Linked DNA regions of Homo sapiens: regions 2, 3 and 4 are each reported to be linked to region 1. Evidence: microRNA targets listed by miRTarBase, many of them from high-throughput screens and not tested one by one. Region 1 holds a microRNA gene; each other region holds the end of a gene's coding sequence.

What was found. The annotated mature microRNA hsa-miR-6731-5p reads UGGGAGAGCAGGGUAUUGUGGA and lies in region 1 at 4,913-4,934, opposite strand. An mRNA with a match to its seed (bases 2 to 7 or 8) in the 3' UTR can be bound and repressed. Matches are read on the target gene's strand: a 7mer-m8 pairs with bases 2 to 8, a 7mer-A1 pairs with bases 2 to 7 and ends in A, and an 8mer does both.
Region 2: the mRNA of GABARAPL1 is a reported target of hsa-miR-6731-5p. Seed matches in the 3' UTR shown: 7mer-A1 at 6,081-6,087.
Region 3: the mRNA of CNNM4 is a reported target of hsa-miR-6731-5p. Seed matches in the 3' UTR shown: 7mer-m8 at 6,213-6,219.
Region 4: the mRNA of PDZD4 is a reported target of hsa-miR-6731-5p. Seed matches in the 3' UTR shown: 7mer-m8 at 962-968.

Annotation. Positions count from the first base shown.
Region 1 is chr1:24,914,478-24,921,592 of GRCh38, forward strand. It overlaps MIR6731 (microRNA 6731), which reads right to left and starts at 4,939; the gene lies at 4,868-4,939. It overlaps RUNX3 (RUNX family transcription factor 3), which reads right to left. Exons shown (of 5, transcript NM_004350.3): 3 at 4,763-4,867. RefSeq lists an enhancer at 3-518.
Region 2 is chr12:10,221,345-10,228,459 of GRCh38, reverse strand. GABARAPL1 (GABA type A receptor associated protein like 1) reads right to left here. Exons shown (of 4, transcript NM_031412.4): 4 at 5,332-6,673. The coding sequence ends at 6,608. Among named protein-coding and RNA genes, the nearest start is that of GABARAPL1-AS1, 9.8 kb to the right of the region's middle.
Region 3 is chr2:96,809,072-96,816,186 of GRCh38, reverse strand. It overlaps CNNM4 (cyclin and CBS domain divalent metal cation transport mediator 4), which reads right to left. Exons shown (of 7, transcript NM_020184.4): 7 at 4,313-6,867. The coding sequence ends at 6,670. CNNM3-DT (CNNM3 divergent transcript) reads left to right here and starts at 2,530. Exons shown (of 2, transcript NR_149141.1): 1 at 2,530-2,693; 2 at 3,698-3,948. RefSeq lists a silencer at 1-312 and an enhancer at 653-772.
Region 4 is chrX:153,796,769-153,803,883 of GRCh38, reverse strand. PDZD4 (PDZ domain containing 4) reads left to right here. Exons shown (of 8, transcript NM_001303512.2): 8 at 1-1,718. The coding sequence ends at 531. SSR4 (signal sequence receptor subunit 4) reads right to left here. Exons shown (of 6, transcript NM_006280.3): 3 at 6,352-6,426; 4 at 6,070-6,159; 5 at 5,748-5,813; 6 at 5,385-5,555. The coding sequence ends at 5,451. Among named protein-coding and RNA genes, the nearest start is that of SSR4, 5.7 kb to the right of the region's middle. RefSeq lists a cis regulatory region at 2,901-3,175.

The DNA.
Region 1 (7,115 bases):
ATCGGCCCCCTGTGAGCAGATGAAAGCCGGGTCGGTGGCTGGGCAGGGAAACGGGCTGGCCGGGGGCCAGCGGGCAGGGAGGCGAGCGGTTCCCTCCCAGGGCTGCAAGTGGGGCTTCCAGAGGCCTGGGGTTGATTAGGAGAACCCAGGAGGTCTGTGGTTAACCCCTTCCCTCCTGCTGGGCAGACTCCGCTAGCCCTGCCCCTAGCGCAGGAGACACTCCTGGGGGTTGTGGGGATCTTGGGAGCCAGGGACCTGGAGCAGCTGCCTCTCCTCAGCCCAGGAAGAAACTACAGAAACTCTAAGGCCTTCAAAGGCCCAACTGCGGGCTCAGGGTCACTTCTCCTGCCCACGCCAAACCCTCGGCAGCCACACTCTGCTGGCTGCTCACTTCAGGCCCCTGCTCAAAGGTCACCTCTTCAGGAGGCCTCCCCGCCCCATCCCTTGTTCCATCCCTTGCACGCTCCACTCCTTCTCCCAGCTTTGTTTTTCTTCATAGGACTTCCTACTACCCGAAATGACATTAATGAATCATTTGCTTATTCATCAACGATTTATGGAGCAGCTGTGAAGGGCTCCTGCCCACATTCTCAGGGTCTAGCTATACCAGGGCCTGGCAAACCAGAGCAAAGAACTCTGCCCTTGTAGAGCATAAACAACAGGGGGCCGGGTGCGGTGGCTCACGCCTGTAGTCCCAGCACTTTGGGAGGCTGAGGTGGGCGGATCACTTGAGGTCGGGAGTTCAAGACTAGCCTGGCCAACATGGTGAAACCCTGTCTCTATTAAAAATACAAAAATTAGCTGGGTGTGGTGGCGTGTGCCTGTAATCCCAGCTCCTAGGGAGGCTGAGGCAAGAGAATCTCCTGAACCTGGGAGGCGGAGGTTGCTGTGAGCCGAGATCTTGCCACTGCACTCCAGCCTGGGCAACAGAGCAAGACTCCATCTCAAAAAACAAAACAAAACAAAATGGGAGAAATGAATAACAAATGAAACAAACTATCGGACTAGATAGCACCTTAGAAGGTGGTAGTGGTAAGTGCTCGGGGTAACCTTAAAGCCAGGAAGGAAAAGGGGGAGAGGTGAGGAAGGCTGTGTGTGTGCCACTTGAAACAGGCGGGCTGCTGAGAAGTGCAGAGGCTTTAGGGTGTGAAGGAGTGTGCCATGCATCTGGGGGTGTCCGGGGAGGAGTGTTCCAGATAGAAAAAAGAGCAGTGCAAAGGCCCCCGAGGCAGGAGTGTCCCTGGCAAGTTCAAAGACCAGCCAGGATACCAGGGTGGCCAGAGCAGGATGTGGGAGGGAGGGCAGGGGGTAACGGGCACAGGCTAGGGGGGCGTGAGGGCCTTTCCCCCACCGTGGTCCATGCCAGACTTGCCAGGTGTCACCGCCCCTCCTGCTGGGATCCTGGACCTGGCTCAGCAACCTGCTTCTTAACCAGCCCCCAGTGACTCTGAGGGACACCAGCACTGAGAACCTCAGAAACCGAGGCCACACAGGCAGGAAGCCACCAAGCCAGCCTTCAAACCCAGCTGGCCACCTGGCTGCAGGCCGGGCACGCTCTGCAGGGCACCAGAGGGGAACGACCCGGCCACAGAACCCACAGCCGGCCTCAGGGATCTACAGATTCCCAGTCCTTGGCTCCCAGGACCAGCCCCTACTCCCACTTCACCCCACAGCGGGCTCAGATTTCAGAGGGTCGGAGGTGGCAAAACAGGAAAAAAGCCGGGAAAGGAAGTCCAGGAGCACAAAAGGCCTGTAACAACCTGTGAAGGTTGTGGGGGCACTTCCTGGGGCCAGGCCCCGGTAAACTCAGTCAACCTTCACAGCGACTCCCCTAGGCAGACACCAATACCATCCATTTGACAGCTGAGCACACTGAGGTGAAAAGGCCCTTCCAAGTGGCCCTCACTTCCCGCAGCCCCCGGGTCGGAGCCCCCAGGGTGTGCTGACAGTCACCTTGGGCAAAAGGTTTTGCGCCCTGGCCTCTATCCTCTCCTGGGGTTGCCCAAGAGATCAGTTACTGGGGACTTTGCACAGGGCCTGACGCAAGGGAGGGGGTTGCTCAGTGACCAGGAGCCGCTGAGCTGGTCCCTTCACTCTTACAGATGGGGACGCTGAGGACCCGAAAGGCCAAGGATTTGTCCAGGGCCAAAGACAAAGGAGTGGGGCTGCAACCCAGGGTATGGGGGGGGACCTGATCTCAGGGCCAGGATATGCCAGGGACAGGAACAGGCAGGTCCTAAGGATGGGGGACCTAGTAGACTGCCCCCCGACTCCATCTCTGCTCTGTTCTGTAAATAAAACCACTGATCCAGCCGCTGCCGGGGCCCAGAGAGGGAGGTCACCTGTCTCAGGTGGTGCAGCAAGCCTGGCTTCTGACGCCGTGGGTCTCCAGGCCCAGCCTCTGTCCCTCCCTCTTGTTGCCTCGTCCTGAGCCACGCATTTACCTTCCAGCTCACCCCAGAAGGGGCCATCTCAGGTCTGGGAGACCCAGGCAGGGAAGAGCAGGCAGGGGATTCTGCTGGAATCTCCCACAGGCAGGGCTGAGTCTCCATGCTCATCCAGGGGTCCCAGCAGGGCAGAGTGGGCGGCTCTGGGGTGGGCTGGGCTGAGCATGGAGGGCTCTCAGAGGGGCCAACCTTGCCCGGTCCCTTGGATCTTCCCACCAAGCGTCAAGACCCCGTCCCGTGCCTCCCTCTTTCTGGAGTGGCTCCCCTCTTTCTGGAGTGGCTTCTGAGTGCCGCATCCCCACCCAGAGCCCAACTGAGGCTCCTGTCCATGCTGACCCTGCCCCTGGAGACATAGGGCAGGGCTGCCACCTCCTTCAATGGAGACTTGATACCTGCACCTCTATTACCAAGGCAGCCACCCAGCTGCTGCCCATGAGAGAGCTCACCGTTGACTAATGGTGGTGGTGGGAGTGCAGGAAGGGGGCTGGGTACTGAGGACGACAAAACGCTGCGGACCCAGTGACTCATGGGACCCCTCTGTGCTACGGCCACGTGCTGTCCACATGTCGCCCCTGATCTCCAGGTCCGCAGGGTGGGTGGCATCATCACACTTCATGGAGGAGGGAGCTGAGGCCCAGAGAGGTCAGTGACTTGCCCTAGGTCACACTGCAGATAACAGCCCTGGCTAAAGTGACGGATCCCTTGCTAACCCCCACCGCTAAGTGCTTTCTATAGATTAAGCCACTGTTTCCTCGCAATAGCATCATGAGGTAGCTGCTTGTGCGAATATCATTTTTCAGTTCAGGAAACTGAGGCACGGAGATGACTAGCCCAAGGACCCACAGCCAGGAAGGCTGGCTTGGAAACTGCTCTCTACACCATGGTGGTCTATGGCTCATGAGGGCTTCCCAGCCATCACCACCTTGAGACTCCTGGAGTCACTGATCCAGTTCTCAGATGACAAAACTGAGGCCACAAAGAAGACATGACTTGCCTAGGGTCATGAAGCCCAAGGCCAAGGGCATGGGCTGGTCTATGTCTGATCTCAGCAGGAGGGAACCAGCAGGAGTGTGGCCAGGGCAAGTGCTGGCTGGGAGCTGACGGTGCAGGCCTGAGGATGCGTGCCGGGGCTCAGGGCTGGCAGAGGTGACCCTGAGAGCCCTGGAGGGAAACTCTTCCAGGGCTGCTGGACTCAGCTCCAAGCCTTTCCCAAGTGGCCAGATGCTGGGATGGGCCCAGGAATTGGATGATGGGGTGTCAGGCCCAGCTGACTCCCAAGAAGGGAGGGGCCAGCCCAGGGCTAGGCCTCCTGCCCCAGGCCTCCTGCCCCAGGCCTGCTCAGCCTAGAATCTTGCCTCTGGGAAGACTGAAGCCTGGGGCGCCTTCCTGCTCCTTGCACAGCATTAGGTCCTATTCAGGTACCCAACTCCCTCAGGCCTGGATTCTCTCCTCACTGGAACTTGGGTGACCCCTCTGGCTCTGCTGTCATCAAGATCCCATTCAATAGTGACTGCTAAAAGGTCTTCTAAACTACAAAGGGTCACATTTCTGAGAAAGAGAGGGGTGGGCCAACCTTCAGTGCACCAAGCTGAAAATGCCTTGGGGAGGTGGGATGGAGCTCAGGAAGCTGGCTGGCTCTATTTCATTCATTCATTCATTCATTCAGTCAGTCAGTCAGTCAGTCATTCATTCATTCTGTGGACACAGAGCCTCAGCCTACCCTCCCACTTCCCCAGCCTTAATCTGACCTTCAGCAAGCAGAGAGAATTAAACACAAACTCGCTTTGATGGACCAGAACTCCCTGCTCATAGGGTCTGGGTGCCCGGACTCTGGGTGACCTGAGCAAGTCACATGCTAAGATTCAAAGACTCAGTTTCCAAGGAAGAGGCCTGGCCTCACAGCCAGACCAGCCCCTGACTTTTGATCACTCCTGCCCTCCATGCATCCCTCAGCCACCCGCAGAGAAGCTGGGGGCAGAGTAAAGCAAGCCTGGCTCAACCTCCACCCAGAAACACACAAGCACCCGACAAATGCCATATCTGAAAGCTTTCTCCATCCTTTTCCTTTCCTTGACTCCCTCAGTAGTCTCCATGGACAGTCATCTCCACTCCCAGCCTCCTCGCTGGCCTCCCACGGTCTCAGGCTAAGCCCAGAGGGTTTAGGGGTTTGCCAGCAGGCACGCAGTGTGTGGGGGCACAGAGCCAAGGACTGCAACCCCCCGAGGAGGGCTCCATCTGTCTGACCTAGCTGCTGTCCTTCCCGCACTGGACCCTCCTCCCCCGCGCAGGGGCTCAGGGGGCTCGGTGGCACTTACGTCTGGGCTCCCGGGGTCCGTCCACGGTCACCTTGATGGCTCGGTGGTAGGTCGCCACTTGGGTGGGGTTGGTGAACACAGTGATGGTCAGGGTGAAACTCTTCCCTGGGGAGAGTGGGGAATAGAGGCAGGTGGTTGGCACCTGGAGCTTCCACAATACCCTGCTCTCCCACCTGTATCTACCCCTGGAAGCCCCTAACTGTCAAGAAGGGGCACTCTGTCCTCTTTGAACATGGGCAGAAGATAGGGCTCTGGGTGAAGTTCAAGCTCTTGGGCTTGGCATTCAAGGCCCCTGGGGGTCTGACGCCAACTTTGTCAACCCCCCGCCCCATGCCGTGACCACCCTGGCTCATGTTCCCCTCTTCTTGGCCTTTCTGCTGTCTCTTCTATTCAGAGACCCACACGATTTTGTGGTGGGGAGCAGGATGGGTATATTCTATTTTCTGAAAGTAATTGGTGATCTTTGTAGAAAAATTCAAGAACATACAAAATATAAATAAAGAAGAAAAGACACCCCCCCCCCACGGTTCCACTAGCTGGAGATAGACACCGTTACCATTTGGTGTTTTCCCTTTCAGCTCTTTTTGTATGGGTTTGTATATTTACACAGTCGCAGTGGTACTAAAATACAGATTTTCATACTGTTTTTTTTTTCATTTAACCTCACATCAGAAGCACTTTCCCACGTCATTAAAACTCCATAAACTTCGTTTTTAATGGCTGCAAAATATTTCAACTCAAGGAAGCCTCCTCATCTTTTATTTATCTACCTCCTTACTCTCGGGTATTTACATCGTTGCTAATTTCTTATTGATGTGTGCAGCTGGAGCTGAAAAAGGACTGATTTGGGAGCTGCAGACATTTCTTCTGTAGACACAACTGTTATTTCCAGAATGTTCTATTTTTAGATAGACATTTGGCTCCAAAGTCTCCATTCAAAATTCCTGAGAGGGGAAAAAACTTTTAAAATACTACTTTTTTTTTTTTTTACCATTTAAAATAAAATGAAAGTGACCTTCTGTTTATAAAAATCTTTGTCTGCATCTCTGCTTATTTCCTTAGAAGAGATTCCAAGAAGCGGTGAGTGATTTCACGGCAGCAGAGGGTTGGGACATATTACGGGCGCGGATCCCTCTTGGAGTGAGATGACTCTCCGGAGAGATTTAGTCGTCACCCTCGCGTGTGAGGCTGCGTCACACCCCAGGGATGTGTCTATCAAGATGGAAGATCTTTTACACGCTCTTGATTTTGTTTGCCTTTTTTTCTATTACTAGTGAGAATGAAACTTTTTATATGATTATTATCCATCATAATCCAACACAAATTACTGCTTCATGTTCTTTTACTTTCCTGTGAAGGTTTTAGTGCCTTTTAAAAATTGCTATATATTAAGCTTGTTAATACTTTCCATGCTGTATTTGTGGCCATCAGTTTCCCCGGGCACAGGCCTGCACATTTTGCCTTCACACGCTGGGTGGTTTTTCATTTTCACTTCTATTTCTCGTTCTTCTATCGTTTTATGTTCAGACGGGTTTCTCCGTGTAGAAAGCAGTTTATGAAGATTTACTTTCGACAGTCTTCTCTCTACTTTCTACAGTGAATTCTCTGATGTGTCTGGGAGTTTGGGGGTCTGGGTAAGAGTCCTCCTCTCACCCTATTCTCTATTACGATCCACAGCCTCATGCTTTATGAGATTGGTGGCCGGGAGCGGGGGAGATTTGCGGATCCCCCAAGCCAGACTTTATCCCCCTATCCCTGCCTCTGGATCCCACGTACAGGCCTGGGAACTCCCTGTGGGTAGGGGCCAATGGTCTCGCACTCTCACCTGTACCCCAGGGCTGGCACAGGATGGTCAAGGAGAGAGGCTGCCCAAGCGCATCCCTCTGGTGTCCCCCTGACACGCCTCCAAAGTGAGCAGGTAGGTTTCAACAGCCCCACGTTGCAGGTGGGAGATGAAGCTCAGGGTGGAGACCAGTATCTCACAGTTCTCTTTGCATGGCCGGGTACTTGTTAGTCAACTGATCAAGTGAAAATTCTAGCCCCAGAGGCAGGAGAATCCGGAACAAAATTAAACCAGCCAGGCTGCCAGGAGCCATGCCACAGGACCCAAGGCCCTCTGAGACACCAGGGGGAATTTAAAGCTCAAGACCCACTGAGTGTCACTCCAGCTGGGAAATGAGGGGCTTCTCTGGAAGCCTTTTCCTAAGCCAGTCGGCTGAGGCAGGGATAGAAATTCTGACTGCACTTGCCCCCGGAGCCCCAGGTCAGAACAGACCTGGTCTCCCACTCTCAGGTCACAGGGGCCACTTTGTATGATTTCTGGAAGCAGAAGTGCAGATGGTCTAGGGAAGTG
Region 2 (7,115 bases), not on the chromosome of region 1:
CCATTCACTGTTCTGACCAATTGTTGTATATCACTACACAAAAAGTTTCTGCCTTCCTGCACCTCAGGATCTAGAGAGAGAAGACATAATAAACTAGAAAATTATGTTACATGATCACTACGAAGCAAAAAAGACAAAGACCAAGGTTGAGAATGACTAGGAGAAAGGGAAGTAGGGGGAAGGTGTTGAATATTAGAGATGTTCAGAGTTGGTCTCCTTGACATAGTATCTAAGACTTGAAGGAGGTTAGGAACTAGCCAATTTTAGCACGTAAAATATGGCTTATTGTTACTTTTATCCTTTGAATACCATGTGCATATTGCTTAAAGAAGCAATAAAGCCATCATCATTCTTTTACTGAATGGTATGAAGCAACTTTGAGCCTACTAAAAGTGTAAAAATAGAAAACATGTTTCAACTTCTCACCCAAAAGTTCAGGATCACTTTATTCAAGTTTTAGGAGCTAAGTACTTCTAAACAGAAGTCCTAAGGGTCTTAAATACACTGCTTTTGAAAACAGAACTACTGAAATAGATGGCCCCACCGTGATGAAAACACACCAGGAGAATGACTTGTCTTTTGTTAGTCACTGTTGAAAACATGCACACCTGCACAATGGCATAGTGAAATGTCATTTGACTACTTTTAAGGGTGATAACTTCCTGTTATTTCAAACTCTGAAAATAATCTAGCCATGGGTACATATACTTAAGAAGTGCCCACAACCAGGAGGAAAAAAAAAAAAAAGGAAAAGAAAATGAGGCAGGGCCCTACACAGGGTAACCAAGCTGAGATCATCAGTCACAGCTTTTGGAACAGGGATTCTAGTATTTGTGTGTGTGGACTTTTTGTTGTTGTTGTTCAGCTACTTATCAAAGGTAAACAAAGGGGTGGGTCGCTGGGCAGTGGGCATAGGTGAGGAGGGAATTCTCCATTACTCAGACAGCCTGGACTCAGAACCACCAAAGGCAAAATGGACTTGTTTCTGAAATATTTGGTAGTTTCATGCAGCTAAAAATAACTAAAGTTAAATAAATGTTTGTAGCTTGTTTAAATCTGGCAAAGCAAAAACATCCAAAAGAAACCACAGCTAGAAATAGTTAATTACAAATTTTGTATAAGAACTAATATGAATTTATCAACTAGTTCATTTTCCAAAATGACTGAATTTGTCATTATTACAGCTGACTTGATGCTGTACCCACGGGCAGGTGGATATGCATGGCCCCCCTCCACACACCACTTCAAAATTACAACACACCTGTTCTATCTGATGGTACCAGTACCAATAGAATGCAGAATTGTAAGCTTAATAAGTGTAACACTCTCAAGACAACTGTAACTGACAAGACTTGTGTCCAAAGGGCCACTGCAGTGACCAGGGGACTGCACTGCACCACTCTGGGGGGGCTCTATTCATATTTTATAGTGATGAGGCAGTGCATGAGGCAGTGATCTTGTCTGCCTGGTTACTACTGTACATTAATCATAATTTGCTTTGTTCTTTTGCGATCTTAACTTCTGATTGCACAATACAGTAAAAAAATTTAACAATGCTTTGAAAGCACAATGCTTTGAAAGAGGAAAACAAGTCAGGGTTGGGGGAAAAATCAAGAAAAGCAGAATAGACTGCCATTCACAAGTAGAATGATTTGTCTAGTCTCCCTCCACCTGACAGGGTAAGACCCATACTGGGGAGCACTAAACCTGGATGGCACAGGCATTGTGTCTCTCTTGATGGAAGAGGCTTCAATGTTTATACTACATAGAGAGTGACCACATATTTCGTCCAATGGGGGGGGGGGGGTCATGTGACAGTGAAATAAGGAACCACTAATAAATCAATCAGGACAACCGGCATAATTCAAGACTATCTTTGGCAAACTTAAGATGTATGCTTACCCTACATATATTTGAAATCTTTCTACCGAAGTGTATGGAAGAGCTAAGGACTCACTCATCTTTGATGTTCATGTCATACTGGCCTCCCTAATCTCATTTGACACATCATTCAACCTTTATCCCCAGAGAGAAGCAAGTCAATCAGAGTAAGCCAATCTAACTAACAATCTAACTAATCTTAACATGGAACACTGGGCCAGGTTAACGAAGGGCTTCTTAAACTACTTTTAGCTCATGACAAGCCTCACAATGGCCTGACGGCACAAAGAAGCATTAAAAGCTTGACTAGCAGAAAACATGGAAGCGGCGCTGAGAAGAACTGACCTTCAGTAAAGAAGTGCCAAATCCAATCCAGCCTGCTGAGAAGTGACAGCATGCTGGCAGTCCTCAGAGCCCTCGCTTGCTCTCGGCACCTCCCCTGCCTGGGCTCCCACTTTGGTGGCATTTGAGGAGCCCTTCAGCCCCCCCACTGCACTGTGGGAGCCCCTTTCTGGGCTGGCCAAGGCTGGAGCCCACTCCCTCAGCTTGGAGGGAGGTGTGGAGGGAGAGGCACGAGCGGAACCGGGGCTGCGTGGGGCGCTTGCGCGCCAGCTGGAGTTCCGGGTGGGCGTGGACTTGGCGGGCCCCGCACTCGGAGCAGCCAGCCAGCCAGCCCTGCTGGCCCGGGGCAATGGGGGACTTAGCACCCGGGCCAGTGGCTGCGGAGGGTGTACTGGGTCCCCCAGCAGTGCTGGCCCACCGGCGCTGCGCTCGATTTCTCGCCGGGCCTTAGCTGCCTTCCCGCGGGGCAGGGCTCGGGACCTGCAGCCCGCCATGCCTGAGCCTCCCACCCACTCCATGGGCACCTGTGCGGCCCGAGCCTCCCCGACGAGCACCACCCCCTGCTCCACGGCGCCCAGTCCCATCGACCGGGAAGGAACAAACAACCCAAGGGCTGAGGAATGCGAGCGCACGGCGCGGGACTGGCAGGCAGCTCCACCTGCAGCCCCGGTGTGGGATCCACTGGGTGAAGCCAGCTGGGCTCCCGAGTCTAGTGGGAATGTGGAGAGTATATCTAGCTCAGGGATTGTAAATATACCAATCAGCACCCTGTGTTTAGCTCAAGGTTTGTGAGTGCACCAATCGACACTCTGTATCCAGCTGCTCCGGTGAGGACGTGGAGAGTCTTTATGTCTAGCTCAGGGATTGTAAATACACCAATCAGCACCCTGTGTTTAGCTCAAGGTTTGTGAATGCACCAATCGACACTCTGTATCTAGCTGCTCTGGTGGGGCCTTGGAGAACCTTTATGTCTAGCTCAGGGATTGTAAATACACCAATCGGCACTCTGTATCTAGCTCAAGGTTTGTAAACACACCAATCAGCACCCTGTGTTTAGCTCAAGGTTTGTGAATGCACCAATGGACACTCTGTATCTAGCTCCTCTGGTGGGGCCTTGGAGAACCTGTGTGTGGAAACTCTGTATCTAACTAATCTGATGGGTACGTGGAGAACCTTTGTATCTAGCTCAGGGATTGTAAATGCACCAATCAGCGCCCTGACAAAACAGGCCACTCGGCTCTACCAATCAGCAGGATGTGGTTGGGGCCAGATAAGAGAATAAAAGCAGGCAGCCCCAGCCAGCATTGGCAACCTGCTTGGGTCCCCTTCCAAAAGGTGGAAGCTTTGTTCTTTTGCTCTGCAATAAATCTTGCTACTGCTCACTCTTTGGGTCCACGCTGCTTTTATGAGCTGTAACACTCACTGGGAAGGTCTGCAGCTTCACTCCTGAAGCCAGCGAGACCACGAGCCCACCGGGAGAAACGAACAACTCCAGACGCGCTACCTTAAAAGCTGTTAACACTCACCGCGAAGGTCTACAGCTTCACTCCTGAGCCAGCGAGACCACGAACCCACCAGAAGGAAGAAACTCCGAACACATCTGAACATCAGAAGGGACAGACTCCAGACACGCCACCTTAAGAGCTGTAACACTCACCGCGAGGGTCCGCGGCTTCATTCTTGAAGTCAGTGAGACCAAAAACCCACCAATTCCGGACACACTTCCACAACAGCTGGTGTGACTTTGCCTCTGAACTTGGCTGTTATTTAAAAACTCCACTGTTTCGTAAAATCAGACAGCTTGTCGAAAATGATATGTAATGTCCTATCCAAGGACAAAATTTGTTCCTTAGGAAAATCCAGGAAGTAGGCCTACAATAAGCAAAGCCTACCTGGGAGAGACACAGCCCCTAAATTCAAACGATCTCTTTGGTTTAGCAATGGCCTACAGTCTCTTGCCCTACAGGGACTGTTTCAGATGTGTACAGAGGGTTAGGATCTGCCGCCATGTGTTTTTTGCTTTCTTTCAAATATTCATCCAGTCTCATTCCTAGGTCATGGATAAATCTGTTAGTTTCAAAATACAGTTCACATCTTAAACTCAAATATTAGCTTCCTTTTGGCTTTATCAGGGAACAGCACCTTGATATTTTTGTCATTAGGGACAAGTGTCCATTTTCAATGCCTTCATCAAAATTCCGTAATCTTACATAATTTTCTGCATGTGGTGCTGCTTGGCATGGATCTTTTATAACTTCCTACTTCCTTTTTGGTGACCTTGATATATTCCCTAACTCTCTACAGAGGTAGACATCACTTGGGGATATGACTGCAAGAGATTAGAGAGGGTTAGAGATGGGTCTTAAGGTTTTTCATGAAAGAAGTTTTCACTAATCTGTTTTCCATTCTCTCATTTAACTTGCATGCTCAAAGCCCACCCACATATTCGTTCCTGAATAACTGAACAAGACTTTCATATGGTCAGAAGACACCAAGCTTGTTCTGATGCCGGGAGCCTTGCCTAGGTGCTATTTGCTGCTTTGGGAGATGGTGGCTTCAGACTGACCAAGTTGTGATGGAGAGAGTAAGGTGTGGTTGGGACCTACAGCAAAACCTGGTGCAAAAAGCAATGACGCTCAAACTTCAGTGTGCAGCAGTCATATCAGGAGCTTGTTAAAAATTAGACACCTAACGCTGAGATTCTGAGTCAGCTAAATCTGGGAGATGGCCTAGACATCTGCATTTGTAATTAGCACAGCCCACCCCTTACCTCTACGTAGGCAGTCTTCCACCTTCAGCTTTCAGAAACACATAGAACAGTGACGATGCACTTATCTTTGGAGGAGAAAAAGCTCTCTCTCTCTCTCACACACACACACACACACACACACACACCACCAACGCAGCAGGCACACTGCCCCAGCATAACATTCACCCTTGAACAGCAACTCCTGCTCACTAAAGAACTGAGTAAACATATATGGGTCTGACCATATGTGAACATTCATCACTAACAGCTTTCCCCACTTAGTTCTTTTGTTCAGAGAGTCCACATATCATCTATTCTAATACATACAAAATAAAGGCAACATTGCTGAACTCAGTGGATTTTTAAGGTAAGCAATTATTTTATTTCCTTGGCCTGATGGCATTGACTTCATTATACAAGAACTTGCAGCTGACAGAACTGACACACACATTTCCCCCAAGAGAAAGAACCCTTTTCATTAGCAGAGATGAATTGAAATGTCATGTCTGAGTGCAATTCCTGCTCCCCACTCCCACCCCACAAAATCCCAAAAGTGAAAATAAATCAATAAAATCCCCATGATTTACTAAAAGTCATCCCTCCAAACCTTTCTAACTAGCAGCTGCAGTGGATGATAACCAAGGAGGGAAGCAGCTGGCCATCATGTAGCATTCCTGTGCATGTGAGCCTGAAGGGACAGCAGCATGGGAGCAAGAATCCTGAATGAGAGTAGTATATAATTACCTTACTTCATACTTGCCCCCTCCCTACATAAGACACCTCTGTCCTGATACATGGAAAATACTAGAGGAGATGCTAAGAGTGGTTTTAGTCTACAATTGGAAATGCCTGAGACTTATTAAATTCCAAGGAAGGGGTGAGATAAGGGGCACCAAAGAGAAAGAGCAGGTTAGACAGGGATGCTCAACACTCTTGTCAATTCCAGTTTAATGCTATTTAATAACAAAACCATCTTCTTAATCACAACCACCTTCATGCCTAACCCCTATTTTCCAAAGGTAAGAGATCCCTGTCTAAATTTCTGGGTTGTTGTCTACTGCCACCCCTGGGGTGGTACTGTGATGTCTGAGTGAGATTGCAACCGGGATGGGAGAAAAGAAGTGTGAGACAGGGAAGATCAGGGGCCACAATGCATCAATTACAGTGGGTCTCTTTTGGTCCCCAGGTATGGTCCACTACCACAAGTCCCCTTTCCCTACCTGTCTTGTGCAAATGTCAAAAATAGAATCTCTGCCCAAAGAGAAGGGAGCACAGGGAGTTGCTGCTGGACTGCCATCATCTCTGGCCCCAACTTGTCCACCTCCTGACCCATCTATGAAACTGCACAACAATTAAACCCCAGGAATACTGTAAACTTACATCATCCCCATTCCTCTATCAAAGCCAATCCAACAGCTCTGTCCTGACATGCTTTCTCCCTGGGCCGAGGAAGCAGCAAAAAATATCAATTGAGCATGTGAAAATGTGATGACGGTGTGTGTGGTGTAATGTTTCTAGATGTCTTCACCTTCTGTCTCCTTGCGGTGGGAGCCACCCTCTTTCCCCATGTCGCGCACACACACCCCTCCCCTACCCCCAAGTCCAGGTGCTCCCATCTGCTGGGCTTCCAACCACTCATTTCCCATAGACACTCTCATCACTGTAGGCCACATACAGAAAATAGTCTTCCTCATGATTGTCCTAGGGGAAGAGATAAGACAACAGTTTAGAAAACATATTCATTCATTAGCTCTAAGATGCTGAGCCTCACACAACCTTGTAAAGCAGGTATGGAAGGTATCATTAGTCCCCATTTAAAAGAGGAGCAAAGGATAGGGAGAAGTGGTTGGAATTACACTTTGAGCTCTGAGTTCACAAACAAAAATCCTTCATTGAAAACATATTACACATAGGTATCAGGGATATGAAGATGACTAGGGCACAGTCCTCACTCTTAAAGAGCTCACTCCTAGCAAGGGGAACATAGATACCACAGATGGATATATAATGGGACATATACTAACAGGGAATATATGCTATGCAAAAAAAGATTCAGGATTATTAGAAGTTTACGTAATTCATTAACGGAGCACAATGAGAAGGAAGCATCTTATGCAAAATACTGCAAAAAACAATAGTTATA
Region 3 (7,115 bases), not on the chromosome of region 1:
GGCCAATAGGCGGTGGGCGGGGGCGGGCCCCAGGGTCGGACTAGGCTGCGCCGGGGAGTAAACAAGTGGCGGCCAGGGGCGGGCCGGGGGCGTGGGGCTCCGGGCCCCGCCGAGTCTGCTGCGGCTCCGGATGCGCGGGGTGGCAGTGGCCGGGAGGACGCGGGGCGGCGGGCAGGGCCTCCCAAGCCCGGCTGTCCTCGGCCCGTGCGCGGCGCCCGGAGTCCCACTCCTCCCGATGCTGTCCCCCGCGCCCGGAGGCCGAGCCAATTCTCTGGGAAGTTCCCGGCTTGGGAGCGGAGCGGCCGGTCGGAAGAACCTCGGGTGCTGGCGCGCCTGAAGTTGCAGACCAGACTGAAATGTGCGAGACATGTGCCTTTTTCTTAGGAAAGGCCCCAGGTACCAGAAAGGTTTTCAGCGCGCCGACCTACGGGGCTAAGAGGGCTGAAATAAGAACCAGTGACTGAGCGCCGGGAGGTTTAAGGTTTATGGAAGATGTTCATCGCGCCGTACCCTACTAGAGGTTTGGGGACGTGGGACACAGCCCCTGCGTTCCCGCCGCGGACCCCGTGATAAATACACAGACACACAAAATCACTACCGCCTTGAATCTGGACAGCTACCTCAGGTGGTTAATATCTAACAGGAGCAGAGTGGAGCTCAGAAAGACTCAGCGTGGGTGCTGGGTTCCGGCGCGACCAGCCTGATACCTAGGTCAGCATCTCAGCCACACAAGCAGGCGGCAGTTCTGTCAGGAATTACTACATCTGGTGATTCCACTTCTCATAGCTCACCGCTGGGAGAATAATTCCTCAGGATTAACAAGATCTATTCCAGAGGATCCTCACTGCTGAAGCGATTTTAGAAGACAGTGTGGTCTGTTGACAGTATGGAATATTCTTTACCCATCAGATATGATCTGTATGTGATTGGAAGGAAATAAACCAACTGCTAACAACACTTCTCTATAGATGTTCAGATTCAGTAATTTTTGTATTTTTCTCTACACTTTTGTTTTTTCAAATTTCCTAGCACAAGAAGACTTTGACTTACTGCACATGTCATTTTAAATGACCTTTATAAAGACTCTATAGAAACAATTTGCTATGTCATGAAAGTAACAATCAAAAAAAGTATGCACATTGTGGCCACAAAGTAAAACTTGTGTGGAAGGTAATGTGCAAAAAAAAAAAAAAATGAGTAAGCTGGTGGTGAGTGACCAAAGGAAAAGGCTTTGTAAAAAACTTTTTTTTTTTTTTTTGAGACGGAGTCTCGCTCTGTCACCCAGGCTGGAGTGCAGTGACGCAGTCTCGGCTCACTGCAAGCTCCGCCTCCCGGGTTCACGCCATTCTCCTGCCTCAGCCTCTCCGAGTAGCTGGGACTACAGGCGCCCGCCACCACGCCCGGCTAATTTTTTTGTATTTTTAGTAGAGACGGGGTTTCACCGTGGTCTCGATCTCCTGACCTCGTGATCCACCCACCTTGGCCTCCCAAAGTGCTGGGATTACAAGCGTGAGCCACCGCGCCCGGCCTGTAAAAAACTTTTTAAAAGATGGTAATAGCTGGCCGGGCACGGTGGCTCACGCCTGTAATCCCAGCACTTTGGGAGGCGGAGGCGGGCGGATCACGAGGTCAGGAGATCGAGACCATCCGGACTAACATGGTGAAACCCCATCTGTACTAAAAATACAAAAAATTAGCCAGGTGTGGTGGCGTGCACCTGTAGTCCCAGCTACTCGGGAGGCTGAGGCAGGAGAATGGTGTGAACCCGGGAGGCGGAGCTTGCAGTGAGCTGAGACCACGCCACTGCACTCCAGCCTGGGCGACAGAGCAAGACTATGTCTCAAAAAAAAAAAAATGGTAATAGTGGCCCGGCGCGGTGGCTCATGCCTGTAATCCCAGCACTTTGGGAGGCTAAGGCGGGCACATCACGAGGTCAGAAGATGGAGACCATCCTGGCTAACACGGTGAAACCCCGTCTCTACGAAAAATACAAAAAATTAGCCGGGCTTGGTGGCGGGTGCCTGTAGTCCCAACTACTGAGGAGGCTGCGGCAGGAGAATCGCTTGAACCCGGGAGGCAGTCGGAGGTTGCAGTGAGCCAAGATCGCACCACTGCACTCCAGCCTGGGTGACAGAGCGAGACTCCATCTCAAAAAAAAAAAGGTAATAGTGTATTTTTAAAAGATGGTAATAGTGTCTCTTCTGCATTGTAAACTCAGAGCTGTGACTAGGCCAATGGGGCATCTCCGTGTTTTTTATTATTCAGGTGATGTTCTGTGCCCTTTGAGTTTACCTTACTTTTGCAGATTACAGAGTAAGCCGCCAGCAGAAGCAATAAAGACATTACTGGGCCTTTGCACTGCAACATCATGCCTCTGAAGAAAAAAAAAGTGCAAACATTACAATAGATTCAGCTCCTTTAGTTCTCACTTCTGTCTCCACGTCAAGATAAAATACTGACATTGAAATAGAATGGATGACATGCTTGAAATGAGTCATGTGCCTGAAAAGTCATTAACAAACAACAGTTCCAGAGAAAAGCCAGGAAAAACTCCCCATGGATTTAGAGACAGAGCTCTCACCTTCAACAGGTTACTTTTTCCTTGTCTCAGGCTTCCTTGGAAAACAACCTATAACTAACTTTCTGGGAGTAAAGCTTCAGGTGGAAGAACAATTGGATCAAACTTGGAAAACGTAAGTGGTCATTTAAATTGTCAGTACCCAAAGATACAAAAAAATCCAATATGGGGCACGCAAAGCTGCTCCTGGAGTGGTTTCCCTTTTGCAGTAGAGGCCTCAACAGTCCTTGACCAGCTTCTCCTGTGGCTGTGCCATTCTTTACCCCACCCCTGGTTAGCATCAGTGGAGACACAGCCACTTGACCTTCAGACCACTGTTGGCCCTCCCTGGGCCGTTTTCCTTACTGGTCTTTTGGATCAAGACATTTCCATGTTATATCTAAATATTTATTCTTGAGTTTTAAACCCACCGGCTAATTCCTGCTTCTCTCTCAAGCCTTAGCTCATATGCTGCTCCCTCCGAGTGATCTTCCTTGACCCTCGACTAGGTTGGCTCAAGGTTATTGGAGCTATGTGCTCTCCCCATATCATCCAGTACATCCCCTGTTGTAACATGTATTCATTTATTCATTCAACAAGTATTTCCTGCATTGAGTCCCTGCAGTGTAGCAGGTACTGTTCTAGTGTTGGGACTGTAGTGGGAATAAAATTAAGTCCCTACCCTTGTGAGGCTAGATTCTAGCGCAAGGACGATAGAAAATACCCAAGTCTATATTTCAATATTTGGTAGTAAGTGCTATGGAGGGAAAAAGGCAAGATAAAGAGACAGATGCTGGGGTGATGCTGATTGAGATGGGCTAATCGGAAGCCTTCTCAAGGAGATGGCATTTGAACTGAGGCTTAAATGAAATAAGGGGTGAGCCTCGCCAAGACTTAGGAGATGTGTCCCAGGTCAGGGAGACAGCAAATGGAAAAGCTGTGTGTGACTGTCCCCCTTGGGGTGGTGGGAAGGTTCTTCATTAAATTCACAGAGGGGTTGGTAGTACCTGGCGTGCGAAAGGGATTTAAACGTGTGGAACAGATGGATGAAGATAATTTACAAATCTTGCCCCAGACACAGACGTTGGCATGTGTACCTCTTTTATCTGGAATATCCTCTTTTCTTTGTTGCCTACATAGATGCCCCCAGTTTGTCTACTCCATTGAACTTTGCATGCTTGGAGCCCCTGGCCTCAGCACACTCAATCGCACAAGCCAGCCTGCAGCACCTGTACAGCACCATGGGAGTCCCCTGCAGAGCTGCAACTTTGAGAGTGGGTATAGTGACGTAACTCAGGTTCTTCAAGGGATGAACACTCCAACTTTGAAACCACTAGCCTGTAGGTGTGGACGAAAAGGCAGCTGCATGTTATAAAACAATATTACTCATACTTTTGGATCAAGCTTCTTTCAGTCCCATGGGTAGGGAGGAGGGGCAATTTGCTGAAGCCCACTGCCCTTCCAGTACTCACAAGCCAAGGGCCCTATGGGATCTGTTTCACAGGACTCATGCTTATGGCAGCTGAGCACATCTGTCCTGTATGTCTGCCAGCAGCCACGTCCCTCTCACTCCTGTGACGACAGCCTTGACTATATTTAGAAATTCCATTTCTGATTGCATTTCACTGCTGAATGGTCCTAGAATCCTTTATTGCCCTTGTCCCATCACAAGAGACAGCCAGCCACAGCCACTTTTATCTCAACAACATACTGAATACTGACAGAACAAACAGGCAAGTTGTAGATTCACCAGGATTTATACATATTTGATTTTTTATTACCAATCAAAAATAAATTCCATATATCGTTTAGCAAATATCATTGTTTTGTGACAAAAGACACAAGAGTCATAACAACAAAACTCCCCGAGAGTCAAACTCATAACGCCAAAATAAATCACAAAAATATACAAATTAAAATATTATGCAAAATAAATACGGCGGCTGTCACCTGCCTACCCATTTGGATGCCCTTTGCAAAGGTCTCCCTTACGTGGAAGACACAGTGGGTGGGCCAGTTCCAGGGTATGGCTCATCCCAGGAACCAGAGGTTGAAATAGGAAGGGAAAAATTGCACTGGGAAGAGGAAGTCATCAGACAAACAATATTTGGAAATAATGATGACCCTCTGTGAGAAGGGATGATCAATGGGCCAGGGAAGAGGAGGAGGGCCAGCCAGTTGGTGGTAACCGTGTGCACAGAGGTCACTGTGGAGGTGTGTGCACCTGCCCCTTTTGCTTCACATACCCCCACCAATGTCTTTTGCTCTACCTGGCAGTCAGGGCTGTCAGGAATATAGCTCTGCCAGCTTCCAAAAGGACTTGGGAGCAAGCTGCTCCTGTACAAGACTAAGGGCTTTCCCCCACTAGGGAACAAAAGTCTGGTGTCTTTTTTCCTTACAGTTGAGAACCCATGGGTGTCACCACCTTCTCTCCAGGCTTCCAGGAGTCAGTTCTATGGCTAGGAGACCTCAGACTGGCCAGGGGTAGGCATACTTGGTGCAAGACAATCCCTGGTCCTAAGAGTTAGGATACTCTAGGCACCTGGAGAGCAGGGCACTTGGGGTGAGGAAAGGAGTGAATAAATAATAATCAGGCGGAAGGCCTGCAGAGTTTCACCTGCCAGGCTCTCGGGACCCAGCTCCTGCTGCACCCAGTGGAAGGACCAACATGGACCTTGGTCCCACAGCCTCCCCAACCCTGGGAAGCCTGGAGTTTTGCAGCAGGGCCTGATTCAGCCCCAGGGAAGAGGCGCCAGGGCAGGAATTCACATGAGGGCAGAGCTCTTAGTACAGTACTACTAACTTCAGCAAGGGCAGGATGACCTCTCACGCTAGGATCACACGTGTGAGAAAGAGGGGCTGCAAGCTGCATGCCTTTAGGAGGAGCCCTCCTCTCCTGAGGTTCCATAAGTGGGTGGATAAGGCCAGGTGAGCCTTGCCAGCCACAGAGGAGAGGACATAAAGAACCTGCTTCCGTGGCTTCCCACATGTCCTCTTGTCTCCACCCCCAAGAGGGACTGAAGCTTGGGGATTCGAAATAAGGGGTCTGGGAAAAAGGCTTCAGTCAACAAGTCAGCCTTGACTGTCATTGTGGGGCGGGGGTGGTACTGACTGCTAACAACGCAGATGCTGATGACTGACAGTTCCTTCTGGAACCAAAAGGAAGAACCCAGACAAATCACCTCCAACACAGATGCCCTCCCGCCGAGGGAGAACCTTTGGTAAAAGTGAGGGCAGGGCCTGGGGAGCAGGGGTGAGCAATCAAAGGCCTGAGACCCTGCCTAACACTTGAGTCAGCCCTGTCACAAAGGGCCAGTTGTCCAAAGGGCCAGATGGGAGGCAGGGTGGGGATGTGTCCTCAGCTGAGTCCCGACTCACCAGGAGAGGCTGTCGGCAGAGTTCTAGATTTCTGGGTACAGCAGTTGACAACAGATGTGCTCCTCTGCATAGCTCAGATTATCATGTCCCTGATCACAGCTACCCAGGAGCTCGTGGCCTCAGCGTTGTCAGATAAGCTACAGCGCAGGTGCTCAGGCAGCTGATCTCCATGCCATTTTGTTCTTTGCTTCTGTGAAGAGCTGTCTTCCTCCCAACAGATAAGCCTCCACTGGCAGGCTCTGGGATCCCACCTCCGGAGGAGGAGGAGGAGGAGGAAGGGAGAGCTCCCTGAATCAGGGACACAAGCTGGAAGGCCATGGCTGGGAACAGATTATGTCCGTTGCTTCCCGGGACAAGAAACCCTTCCTCTTTTATAGTTTTTAGGAAAAAAATATTTTTTTTTTAAATAAAGTTCCTTAACCCTGTCTTCCCTTCCCAAAATGATATTTAAAAAAAAGTGATGAGCCTACTTTAGAAATTCTCTCAGTAAAAAACAGCCTTTGCTTACGGTAGCTGGCCCACTGCCCCCCCTATCCAGGGCTGGACAGTGCCACCTCAGAGCTACTCAGAGGTCCCTGGCAGAGGCCAGATCCCCCATAGGCTGGGGGCCATCTGGCTGTTCAGTCAGACAGGCTATCTATCCGTATCCTTTCTGGACTAACAGGTTCCCTCTCTTCATGTGGGCCCACTGGGGAGGCCCCCGCAGGGTGGGCAGGGGGCCCCGGGCCCTCCTGTCAGATGGCATTCTCGTGGGAGGCTTTGTGCAGCAAGGAGTTACGCTCGTTGAGAAGAGTTGTGGTCTCGTCCACCACAGGCAGCTCAGACTTCTCGGCCAAGTTCTCCATGTGGGTGGTGCACCCGTCTATGGGAAACTGAGGGCTGTTCTCCATGCGAGAAGCCAGCAGCCCGTTCTGGTACTGCTGCCGAGTGATCTGCATGAGGAAGGGATGAGTTCATGGAGGGAGGGGCTGGGAGGCAGACCCTATCACCAGGCCTGGAGAAACAGGGCCAGGATTGAGGCTGTGAGTTGAGAGAGAACATGACCAGTCAGCGTCTCTGGAAGCCCTTACAAAGAACAAGGTGCACGAACAAGAGAAGAAAGCATCTCAGGGCTGGGCACAGTGGCTCACACCTGTAATCCCAGCACTTCAGGAGGCTGAGGCGGGCAAATCGCTTGAGC
Region 4 (7,115 bases), not on the chromosome of region 1:
GAGGAGCTGGGCCACGGCCCCCTGAGCTTGGCCGGTGGCCCTCGGGTGGGCGGGGTGGCGGCCGCGGCCACTGAAGCACCGCGCATGGAGTGGAAAGTGAAGGTGCGCAGCGACGGAACCCGCTACGTGGCCAAGCGGCCCGTGCGAGATCGGCTGCTGAAAGCCCGTGCCCTGAAGATCCGGGAGGAGCGCAGCGGTATGACGACCGACGACGACGCGGTGAGCGAGATGAAGATGGGCCGCTACTGGAGCAAGGAGGAGCGGAAGCAGCACCTGATCCGGGCCCGTGAGCAGCGGAAGCGGCGCGAGTTCATGATGCAGAGCCGGCTGGAGTGCCTGCGGGAGCAGCAGAATGGCGACAGCAAGCCCGAGCTCAACATCATTGCCCTGAGCCACCGCAAAACCATGAAGAAGCGGAACAAGAAGATCCTGGACAACTGGATCACCATCCAGGAGATGCTGGCCCACGGCGCGCGCTCCGCCGATGGCAAGCGGGTCTACAACCCTCTTCTCTCAGTCACCACCGTGTGAGCTGCCCGGGCGGGTACACGGCCCAGGCCCAGGGAACCCCCTGGGGCCCCGGCCCTCACTCTCCTATAGAGATTGTGTGTGTGTGTGTGTGCGCGCGCGCGTGCTCGCTGTGCGCACGCACACATCTCCTCGTCTGGGTGTGCGCACAGGGCTTTGTTAGCAGAGAGAAGCCCCTGAGGAGAAGGGACGCTTTTCTTCCTTCTGCCCAAGTAAAGTGACCATGCCAGTGGCCAGCACTGGGGGCACACCTGTGATGGGCACCCCTTCAGCTGTGCGTGTGCATTCCCCATCCCCCATGCTCTTGCGTGTGCTTGCACGTGCACGCACACACACACCCAGTGCTCTCTCCACCCGACCCGTGTACTTGCAGACAGGGAAGCTGAGCTGAAAGGAGCACAAGAGAGTGTCCGGCTTCGCTGCTGAGCGCGGCCTCTCCCCGCCGCTGCGCACTGCAGTTATTTGTAGACAAAGGCACCCCTGATTTTTGTGGTTTTTCTCCCTTTCTGTGCTTGCCAATAGTTGTTTTGTTTTGTGGACCTGCCCTGGGGGCTGGCAGCTCCTTCAGGCAGCCTGGCAGAAGTGGAACTCCCCTCTCCACTGATGGCTGGGAAGGGAGTTGGGGAGGAAGAGTGGGAGGGAGGGCTGGGGATGGATGGGAGGGAAGGGGAGGGAAAGGTGGGAGGAATGGGAAGCAGCTGTTCTGGTGGCTTCCACTCTGAGGTGTGGGAACGGGGAGCCTCTGGGGGGCACCTGTTTCCCCAGTGACTCAGAGAGAGCAAGACTGCAGGAACGGAGGGGTCCTGCAGGGTGTCCACCAAGAAGTCACAGAGCCCGTTCTGCGCCCCACACCATCTGGAGCAGGGGCTTCTCTTCTGAGTGAACTGAGGAAGGTGCTTAGATGGTGAGGGCTCTAGAAACCAAGCCCCATGAGCAGCAGTGGAAGACCTCGGGCCATGCGGCCTGGGGAGGACTTGGTGGCGATCCGCAACCTGGACCCCAGTGAGAGGCGGTGGGCTGACTGGGAAGGAGAGGCCCCCAACCTCCTCAGGATTTGCACGTGTGAACTAGGCTGCCTGTGGGGTGCCCCTTAGGCTTGGAGAGCCCCAGATTGGAGGCAGACAGACTGCACCACCCCTTCCCCCCCTGCATCTCAAGAATAAAGCAAGCTGCCTTTGTACTTGGTTGAATCGTGGCCTCCCTGTGTTCATTCTTATTGGGCTGGGGAAAGAGTTGTCAGTTTGGGGTGGGAGAAGGAAGAGGGGGGCAGGGTTAGGGTCAACTGAAAGCCACGCTGCAGCCCTCGGTTTGTCTTGGATGTCAGGAGCAGTGACTGTGACCTCCCATGGACAATTGTGTGGCACTCCAGGAGATATACCAGAGTCGCCTGAGTCATTTCAGAGGTGTCACAGTCACAGGGTGGTGACCAGATGCAGAAGGCTGGCAGAAGCCTGACTTCAGACTAGCCTCCAGGCAAGGGCCACGGTCATCTCCATGGGCCAAACCGTAGGTGGGGCCCGCTGCTGGCACATGCCACAGAGAAGTGGGTTCCAGCCCCATCCCTCCCAGCAGGGCCTGATGCCGTCCACTCTGGAAGGCGGAAGCTGCCCTCCCCATTTGGTGATCCCACAGTGCCTAGCAAGGTGCTCAGTTTGCAGAAGGCACCTAGTGGATGTCTTGGCCAGATAGATGAATAACCGCGTCGTTGCCAGGGCCCTTCCATCCTGGGAGCTCTCAGCAAACCTTCGGGCTCTATCAAGTCCTAGGAGCCATGCTCAATGCTGGGCAGGGTCAGGGCCTCAAAGACAACTCCGCAGAAAACATGGGCACAGCCTCTCATGGGAGTGGCACTCCCTGGAGTGGGCAGTGCTGCCATGAAGGAGCGGAAGTGGTCAAGGAGGCATTCAAATTCTCCAGAAAGAAGACAATATAGGCCAGGTGCGGTGGCTCACGCCTGTAATCCCAGCACTTTGGGAGGCCGAGGTGGGTGCATCACATGAGGTCAGGAGTTCGAGAGCAGCCTGGCCAACATGGAGAAACCCCGTCTCTACTAAAAATACAAAAATTAGCCGGGCGTGGTGGCAGGTGCCTGTGATCCCAGCTACTCAGGAGGCTGAGGCAGGAGAATCACTTGAACCCGGGAGGTGGAGGTTGCAGTGAGTCAAGATCATGCCACTGCCCTCCAGCCTCGGCGACAGAGTGAGACCCCCGTCTCAAAAAAAATTTTTTTTCGTTTAAACTTCTCTTAAGTGCCGAGATCGGGGCAGCAAGTCAGTGACGGATTAGACGCTAAGAAGGCTGTGGGGGGAAAAAGTCCCAGTGCCTGTTCCCAGAAGCCTGGAGTCCCGCTGCAGGGAAGGCTGGATCACAAGGGTGCCAGCTGCCTCTCTGCCGCACAGCAGCTCTGGGAGGGAAAGCCTGGCATATCACACCCCACCAGCAGGGAAGAGGGGAAGAGGCTTGCTGGCTGGATGGCAGGAAGGGGAGCAGAGGGCAGAGGCTGGAGATAATGGCTTCCCCCACCCCTCAGGGCCTCACCCCCATGAGGGCTTGGCACATCCAACCCTTGACCAGCTCCCTAACCCTGTCCCTTGGGGGAACAAGGCTCCAAGGGCCCAGCCACAGGGAATTGGCCGGAGTTGACTGGAGATGGAGGTCAAACTGTCCCCTTGGCCTCCCTCTAGCTGCTGGGGGGCTCACTTGGATGGTCCTAAAGGCACCCCCCTTCTTCCAATGGTGGGGTGCCCTCCAGTGTTCACGGGATGTGGGCTCATATGGGCCTGGAGCCTGGAGTCCCTTGGCTGGCTCAGGGAGAGGTGGCGCCAGGAAGGCTGGCAGCACTTGGCTACTGATGCCCTGGAATAGCAACTTCACGTCTGGGTCCCACGGCCATCAGGCTTCGTGGTGGAGCCAGAACTAAAAAGAGCAACCGGGCGCCCGACAGTCGCCCCGGTGCCTGCTGCACCCGGCCTGCCCCAGCCACCCGCCCTGCACAGGCTGCTGAGTCTCCTCTGGAATCTAGAAACTGCATCTGCTGGCAAAGCTGGTGTGGCCCCTCAGCCCCAACGCTCCTGCTGCACTGTCCTGGGGTGAGCGCCCAGCTCTTCCTAGAAGCCCACCTATTCTTGGCAGCCGGCCCCTCCCAACCCCCCTCCCAAGGCCTGGGGGTGGGAAGAGGGCTCCCTGCTTATATAGATGACCCCCTCCCCGAGACTCTGACAGACCCAGGTCACAGGCAGTCCTCACCTGCTCCTGACACCCCCGGCCCCTCAGTGCTGCTCTCTCTAGCCACCGAGCTGAAGTACTGAGGAGCCCCTACCTCCCAGGCAAGTTTTGGGCCTTCCCTCCTTTTCAGCCTTGGCTGAGCGCGGTGGCTCATGCCTATAATCCCAGAACTTTGGGAGGCCGAGATGGATGGATCACCTGAGGTCAGGAGTTCGAGACCAGCCTGGCCAACATAGTGAAACCCCGTCTCTACCAACAATACGAAACATTAGCCGGGTGTGGTGGCAGGTGCCTGTAATCCCAGCTACTCGGGAGGCTGAGGCAGGAGAATTGTTTGAACCTGGGAGGTGGAGGTTGCAGTGAGCTGAGATTGCGCCATTGCACTCCAGCCTGGGCAACAAGAGCGAAACTCTGTCTCAAAAACAAACAAACAAGAAAAAGGCAGCCTCTCTGGAGAATTCCATTTCTCTCCAGTAACAGCCAATGGGTGACCCAGATGTCAGGACTTTGGTGGCTGGTCCCAGTGGACTCCCTGACACCTTGGAGTAGGCACTGTCACTGCCTCGCAGCTGAGCAAACCGACTTGGGTCCCATGGCTGGGAAGGGCTCACCTGGGATTTCCACCCAGTCCCTTTGGACTCCAAGACCCTCACTGCCTCATGGGCCCTCAGTGCCACTAAGGAATACCATTAGCTGGTCAGGAGCCAGCATGTGCCAAGCTGAAAATCAGGCTGATGGGAGAGGTGCAGGATGAACTCCAGGCGTGGTGCCAGGCCGGGATGCCTGCCTGGTGTCCTGAGGGCGCGGGTGCTCTTGGGAGAGGTGTCTCTAGGAGGAAGTGATGTACCCCTCACAGGTGGGGTTTTGTTTTTTTCTTGAGACAAGGTCTCACACTCTGTCACCCGGGCTGGAGCACACTGCTGTGATCACGACTCACTGTATCCTTGACCTCTCCAGGTCAAGTAGCTGAACTACAGGCGCATGCCACCACACCCAGCTAATTTTTCTATTTTTTCTGTAGAGACAGGGTCTCACCATGTTGCCCAGGTTGGTCTCAGACTCCTGACTTCAGGTGATCCTCCCACCTCGGCCTCCCAAAGTGTGGGGATTACAGGTGTGTGCCACCACACCTGGCCATGGGTGTGTATTTTCTCAATATCCCATGAAGGCACAGCACACGGGAAGCCAGGTGGCATGGTCAGGGTGTGGAGTATGGAGGGGCCAAGCCCAGACAGCTGCACGCCGCATGGGCAGGGTGGGGGCACTTGCTGTGCCCGAAAGCAGTGCAGGGAAACCCCTCTGCGTGCGGAATGGGCCCGGGGCTTCCAACACAGGAGCTGTGATGAAGACCAGGCTGGCTGTTTCCCCATGGAGCCTGTGGGGCCACCTGGGGAGGAGGTGGCCAAGCCCACTGCCCTCACCAGAACCAGGAGAGAGTCACTGGGAAGGTGGATACAGGGTTTTGTGGGGACCAGACGGGGGGCTTCATTGGGAGGAGGGACGGGAGTTCTAGACCAAAGCCCACCCCTTTCCTGCCTGGTGCCTCTGCTGGCCAGGCAGACAAGAGGACGCTGGGCCCCCAGCTCTCCCAGTCGGGGGAAGGCACAATAACGCAAGCCAGCAGCCCCAGGTCCTGTGCAGTCCCAGGTCCTGTGATGTTTATTGAAGGAAGCAAGGGCAGGGCTGGGGTGCCGCCCTCAGGCCTGGATGTGGCTCTTCGCACTGAAGGCCAAGTAGTAGATCACAAGGCCGATCGCCGCAGCCAGCACCTCAGTGGACACCCAGGGCCCGTTCCAAGTGCCCTGAAAAAAAGGAGATCACAAGCCAGCTCAGGGGAGTACAGGTGAGCAGACCAGCCAGCCCTGGTCACCTTCCGCCAGGGGAACCAAGACATGCTGGCCAATCACGGCCCAGCAGCAGAGCTGGGGCTGTGGAGAGGATAACCTTCACTCAGCCCAACAACCCCAAAAAGGAGGAGGGACCAGGCCACTCACCCGATGGTCCACGCTGACTGTAAACAGAGGCGGGATGATGGAAATGTCCTCGTTATTCCTCTGAGCCTGCAAGGGAGGTGCAAGGGAGGTGCTGGGGTCAGGGGTGCCTGGCGTGTGGGGGTGGGGAGGGGAGGGGAAAGACAGGTAGGAACACCGGCCCAAGCCCCAGAAAAGGAAAGGAGAGAAATGGGCAAGAGACACTGAGGAAGGGACAGGATCACAGAAAGGCCACCCAGCTCAGGACTTGCTGCCAGCACCTCCCAACCCAGCCCATCCTGCTCCCCAGGGACAGGGGAGCACAGTGGGCTACAGGAGTCCTCACCTTCCTGAGGAGGCTGTAGGACTCCTCGTCGAAGAATCTAACCTCATAGGTGCCTGCGTGGGCGCTCTTGTGGTCCAGGCTCCAGGACACCTGGGTTGGGTGTTGAGCAGAGTGTGGGCAGAGTGGACACGGAGGGGCCACCCTGACCACCAGTGCCGACACTGCAGCACTCCGGCAGCCAGAGCCCACGGCCCCTGGCCCTGGTTGACCGGCCACCCCTGGGGCTTCAGGTCACACCCGGGAGCAGGGAGCCCCCTAGCAAGGGAACCATTGGCCCCTCACCTGATAACGCCCCACATCCTGGCCTCGAGTGACAGGGAATTGTTTTCCACCGACGTCAGCATAGAGAGCCATGTTCTGGGTGAGGGAACAAAGGCAGGGTCACCTTCTGCCCCCTCTGGGTGTGGGCAGAGGAGCCCTGTGCGCTGCTCACACGGCCTGCAGGTGGGCAGGCTAGGCCCAGTTGGGGGCTGCAGTGTCCCTGGCAGGAGGTACCAAGTAACACTCACCAATCCCGTGACTGGCCCTCTGCATTGGTCTTCCCTACGGGGGCACAAGGCCAGATCCCCATGGCCGGGCCTAACTGGACGCATAGGAACCCTGTTGACTGTGAGCAGGGGCGGGATGATCAAAAGGGCTGAGTGATTTCCTGAGTCTACAAGGGAGGTGCTGGGGTCAGGGGTGCCCAGTGGGCTGCCCAAGGGGTGCTTTACCCTAAGAGGGCCATACCCAAAAAAGGCCCCATTTCCTTCTTTGGACTTATGGGAACTTAGCTGGGCATGGTGGCGAGCACCTGTCATCCCAGCTACTTAGGAGACTGAGAGGAGAATCGCTTGAACCCGGGAGGTGGAGGCTGCAGTGAGCCAAGATCGTGCCAATGCACTCCAGCTGAGGCAACAGAGTGAGACCCTATCTCAAAAAAACAAACAAAAAACAAAAACAAAAACAAAACACCCACACAGACAAACTGGCCAATGGCAACCGGGGTGGGCTGACTCCTGGCCCTTTCTCCCGGTCCAGATACTCATTCAGGAAACAGCGGGTGG